Regions from separate parts of the Homo sapiens genome. Here region 1 is linked to region 2. The links come from fine-mapping of genetic effects on gene expression. A gene starts in region 2. The other region holds a variant in brackets. All regions are shown on one strand. Distances are between the middles of the regions.

Evidence for each region. PIP is the estimated chance that this variant, and not a neighbour inherited with it, causes the effect. A credible set is the group of variants that fine-mapping cannot tell apart.
Region 1: its variant is the best candidate, but not a certain one, in a credible set for the expression of OLA1 in prefrontal cortex (BrainSeq, PIP 0.58).

What each region holds. Positions count from the first base shown.
Region 1 is chr2:174,118,252-174,121,172 of GRCh38, forward strand. All of the region lies in intron 7 of OLA1 (Obg like ATPase 1), which reads right to left. Among named protein-coding and RNA genes, the nearest start is that of LINC01960, 94 kb to the left of the region's middle. RefSeq lists an enhancer at 2,565-2,921. The variant AAC/A (reference allele first, on the strand shown) is at 1,705.
Region 2 is chr2:174,247,163-174,250,083 of GRCh38, forward strand. OLA1 (Obg like ATPase 1) reads right to left here and starts at 1,370. Exons shown (of 11, transcript NM_013341.5): 1 at 1,290-1,370. RefSeq lists a silencer at 1,156-1,675.

The sequences.
Region 1 (2,921 bases), 130 kb before region 2:
AAAAATCCAAACCATATCAACTCCGGTTGTAAAAGTGTAGCTCATCCCAACTCAGTGTTTTGGTAACAAAATATGACTCAGAGATCCTTAATCTCTAGTGCAGATTTTTAAGGGGATTGTTTTTGAATTATTCAACAAAGTGAGTAGGGTAGGGAAGCAAAGAAATTCTTTGTGTAGATGAATCATTTGTAATTTGAAGAACACTGGATAGCTATAAACCAAACTTTATATTTCATTTCCTAGAACATAGATGTGTGTACATGTATAGAGAATATATATTTTAATTTCACATGACAGAATCCTAAGGAACACTTAATTTTTTAAAAAGTACTTATAAACCTTTTAATCTGTGGAAGCTAGAAAAAATTTTATATAACTTTTCCTGTTTATGTGGAGTGAAATTCTTCAGCTAGTTTGAAAAAGATGAAAGTCCTGACATATTTGATAAATTACATCACTCACAAATCAGTAAGTCAGCAGATGGTGCTAATGAAGATTACAACGGGCACTCCCAAATGTATCACTTTCTTGAATTCAGTGAACCATCTGGCAAATAGAAATCATTGGCTATAAATAGTATTGCAAAAAATACAAACAGGCCAAGGGAAATTCCTAATATGCATAGGGTCAGTAGCATTATGTTCATATAAAAAAAGTGCTTTCGTATATAATTATCTCTTTCATAAGAAACCAGAAGTGCACTACTGTATTGTTATCTCTCGATAAGAATATGAAATTGTCGAAAGAATATTCAAAACCCATTTAATGAAAACCAAATAGGAATTCACAAATATTATTACATGTAAAAATATATTCAAATGCAAAAGTACATTTGACCAAAAAAGAAAAAAAAAAAAGATTCCTGAATGGGCAAAGGTTTTTCCCCATCCCCACTTCTTTCAGCCTTCCATCTCCTGTAATAAAAAGATCATTTTTCTTTATCATATTCTTTTTAATTCTAAAGATTCTGATCAGAGAAAGAAATAATCAATTCCACAAAATTCATTCACCAAAAAATTATTTGAAATCCTAATTCATAGTATAAATAATACTGTTAACAATAAGCTTTATCATAATACAAAGTAATCTTTCCAAAGCAGAATGTCTGTGTTATATTTCTAGCTTAAATGATCTTGTCAGAAACTGATGACCTCCTACAATAGTTCTATAGAAATAGTTTTTTATATTTATATGCATATATGTGTTTGTATATATATGCACACATACAGAAATAGAAAATTGTGTGTCAAAAATATACACACTTCCACCTACATATACACTTACTGAGATATAGTAGCTGTAATTTTTATAGGCAGCTCAAGAAATCAAGAAAATATATTTATTCCATGATTCCCCCCAAACCAAGCACATAATGTGTAGTATCCCCAAACTATTTTTAGTTGTTATGTACAAATTATGTGGAAAACTAATGAACACATAAAGATGGGAAAGGGGAAGGAACTGAATCATGGTATAATAAGAATAATAAAACATTTTTCTATTTAAAATGCATTTAGTGAACTTGACACATTGCCCTTCATTATTAAACAACTTAAAAGACTTTCCAAGTATTTGTCTACCTATCTTGAATCAATTTCATCACTCAGATTAATTGACTCATATAATATTACCCAAAAGGTAATGTTAAATGACTACAAGCCCACCAGGGCATATGAAAATGTGTGTATAACACACACACACACA[AAC/A]ACACACACACACACACACACAGTCTGCGTATCTAAAAGTTTAGTTATATTTTCCAGTTGAACATAAATATGTAGTATAATAAATAATAAAATATAATTATCCTTTATTAACAGTTTCAAGAAAGGTAGGATCACAAAAATGAAACATAATTGATGGCTGGTAGGTGTAAAAAATATGTAAAATTAGTTTATTCTACTGATTTCATAATTGGATGGCATATTCTACTAACAGAGCAGCAAGGGTGCAAAGATTGAAATTTAAACCCCTAATTAAGCAGTAGTTTGACAGTTCTAATGTCCTGTACCTGCTTGACACCATGACTCAGTAAGCAATCTCAAATGAAAATTAATACCGTCTATAGTATAATCTTAGTTATAAGTAACAGCTGATCGTGTTTAGAAAATGAAAACCTCAAGTGTTCAAAAATGCTTGTGCTCACCAAAAACAACAAAAACTTCTATATAGTTTTACTCATTCAAGAAACAGCAATTTGTAATAATAAAAAATGGTTTGTGGATTCACTTACAACATCTTGATTACTGTCATTTGATCATAACACAACTGCAACCAACCCGGCTGCCATGTCAGCTTCTCTTCAGGGGCTAGGTCTTTAGTCATAAATCAATGAAATGACTAATTCAATGACTAATGCTTGCAGCCATTCCAGTTTTTGCATCTCACAAAATGTCAATATAGCTACTCAATAACACAATAGACTTATCTTTCAAAATGCTTCCTTCTTTTCTAGGGTTGAAAAATAACACATTACCATTTACATTTAGGGTGAACTTCAGTAACTAAAGTGTTCAATACTTCTGAAATGGTGACCTGCTAAAATAACAACAGTTTTAGTCTCCTCTTGTGGCCAAAGTCACAAACCTCTCCTCTCCTCTTTCTTGATGGTTTAAAATAGTTTTCCAGATCTAAAAGACCCATGAAAGTATTTATTACTGTTTCCTGCATCAGTCTTATTTGCTATAGTAACATTACATGTTAATCTTAAAAAACAAAAACTTTTTCTTTTGCTAAAGAAGCAACTAATAATGCAAATGGAGCTTAGATGTAAACATTACCAAAAAACAAGATGCTAACACAATTAAAAGGATTTAGTAGTTAAAATGGATTTTAACTATTTACATCTGCTTTCAGTGTTATAAATGATGAAAACCTAGTGTTCATATCCCTCATAATAAAAATTTATTCTGCACTTTAAT
Region 2 (2,921 bases):
CCAGCCTGGCCAACACGGAGAAACCCCGTCTCTACTAAAAAGAAAAACAAATACAAAAAAATTAGCCGGCCATCAGGCGCGCAGCCTGTAATTCCAGCTACTCGGGAGGCTGAGGCTCGAGAACTGCTTGAACTCGGGAGGCGAAGGTTGCGGTGCGCCAAGATCACGCCACTGGGCTCTGCCTGAGCGACAAAGCTAGGCTCTGTCTTAAATAAATAAATAAATAAATAAAATATTTGTGGCACCAGGAATCAAAGATAAACTTAGAGTTTAGCTACCAATCTTCCATCCAGACTGCTCACAAAACACTTTATATCTTAACCTGATATATGGTTATATGAAAGAAAGCATTTGGAAGCAAGTACACAGAAGACAGTCAAAGAAAATTCCATTGTGGAACCACCAGCAGCCAAGTCACCCTTCACACCAAACCATTCCTCTATAATCTGGAATCTTATCTTTCCCATTCGCCCACAACCCCCATTTTTCACATAGATGAACACCCACCAGGTACTGGGGTCCTTCCACCAAGTCCCTCCCACCTTTGGCACTGAAGGTACGGCTCATCAGTCCTCATAAGCAACCTCCAAAATCTACATTATGGTTACTATTTCTAATGGTAAATTAATCGACGGAACCTTTTTATTTACAAGTCGAAACTTTCTCTGTCCCTTACTAGTTCTGTCTCCAAATCATGCGTGCAGAATTACTCCCACCCTTGGACTGCAAAGTGAAATCACAAAGACCGCTAAGCTCACGTCTCAGAAGCTGGGAACTAAAACTGTCCCAGTCTTCTGGCTGAGAGTTGTACCTCCTAGGACCACGCTGGGGCCCTGCCCTTGCAGTAGTATTCCAGCCTCTGATCCCTGACCCCGAGGGCCAGGAATTTCCCTTCTCAGCGTCCTGACACCTGTTCCTGGCCAACTCCCAGGCCTCCAAAGAACAGATACAGGAACAGCGCCTGTCGGGTCCTCTGGCCTACAGAGAGGTGGCCGGCAGCCCACCCAAAGTGGGCCCCACCCCCCATCCTCCTCTCCGGACTGGGCCACCGGGCGTCCTGGCGTCGGGAGAAGGCTTTCCCCAGGGCTTTCCCGCGTGAGGCGTAGGCCGATCTCCCGACGCGCGGCCTAGTCCGACAGCGCCTCATTCATCCACACATCCCCAAGCCACCCGCTGCCCTGGCCCCATCTTGGCCACTGGGCCCGGGCCCCGCGCCAGCCTCAGGGCAATGAGCCCAGGCGCCGAAGACCTGGCGGAGATCGCGCCCCCGGGCTCCCTGAGGGCCTCACCGTGCTCGGCCTGGGCGATGACACGGGGTCCCAGCGGCAGCGAGAGAAAGGTCCTGCCGGCAGCTGGAGGCGGGGAGGAAGGAGGAGAGAACGCAGGCCCGTCCCCTCCGCCGAGCGGCACGCACGACGGCGGCGACAGCGGCGGAACGGGCGGGCCGGGCGCCGAGCGGCACCTGCGCGCAGACCATGGGCCCCGCCCCTCCCCGCCTTGCCCGCGCGTCCCGCCCATTGGCCTAACCGGCCGGGGAGGCGGGAGTAGGGCGGGAGGAGCCCAGGGTGGGAGGAGCCGCGCGGCGGCAGGGAGCTGGAGAGGGGAAGGCGCTGGCTAGGCCGTTCCCGGGAGCTCTAGTCTTCCGCTTCGGCACGTGGGCTTCTCGGTTCTAGGTCTCCGCTTCCGTCTGGCTGCGCGGCCTGGGTTACCTGCTCACGTTCACTCGCGGGCCTACAGCCCCAAGCTTTCCCAGCTGGACTGCGGAGTGCCTTGGGCCCTGACTTCCCTCCGGGAGATCCGGGGCGTCTGAAGTCAGGCAAACAGCCACACCAGCCCCGAGGACCGCGTGGCCGCTAGCCCATCTCCCTTTTCTATAACTTTATTCGCTCAGTCTGTGCGGAGAGAAGCTGTTAACTAAAAGTTCTTGAAGGAAAAGGGGCTAAGGGAAACTTTGGTCTAGGGATTTCTTCCTCGCCTTATAGTTAAAGCGTCGCACACAGGTACTGGATCACAGAATGCGTTTAATTGAGCCAATTTCCCCCCTTTTCCTCTTGGTAGTTGAGAGCAGGGGCCTTTGAAATTTGGGAATTTCCAATCTGGATTTCGCCACTCATTGACTGTATGACCCTAGACAAATTAACTTCTCTGGACTTCAATTTCGTTCTGGATAAAATGAGGCTATTAAAACCACCTTATGAGGTTATTCGTGTGAGAATAAAATGAGACAATGCGTGTTGAGCTCATAACAACAGTACTCAGCACATACAGAAAAGGCTTGTGAGTAGTCGCTGTTGTTAATATTAGGATTTCATCCCATCTCACCCACATCATATCAATACCATGAGCGCCACTGGAGAAGGAATTCTTTCATTTAGGTCCTGGCCTTCAGATGTCATTCAGGTATTTGTTGTAATGAATATGATACCTGTCCAAAAATTGTGACACTAGAAGCTCCTTTTAAAGGGATTAGTTGCTATTAATATTAAAGGATGTAAATAGGTCGCCATCCCCATTTTACAAGTGAGGAAACAATATCAGAAAGGTTGATTAATTTGGATGAAGTCACACAACTAGTAAATGGCAGCAGCATATTTCAAACCACAATCTAACTGAAAATCTGGCCGTAATCCCAGCACTTTGGGAGGCCAAGATAGGGGGATCAGTTGAGCCTAGGAGTTGGAGAACAGCCTGGACAACGTGGTGAGACCCCATCTCTACCAAAAAACAAAAATTAGCTGGGTGTAGTGGCACATACCTGTAGTCCCAGCTACTCAGGAGGCTGAGGTGAGAGGATGGCTTGAGCCTGAGAGCTCAAGGTTGCAGTGAGCTATGATCACTGCCGCAGCACTCTAGCCTGGGTGTAGAGCAAGACCTTATCTCTAACAAAATAAATACAAATAAAAAGTAAAACTAAAACTATC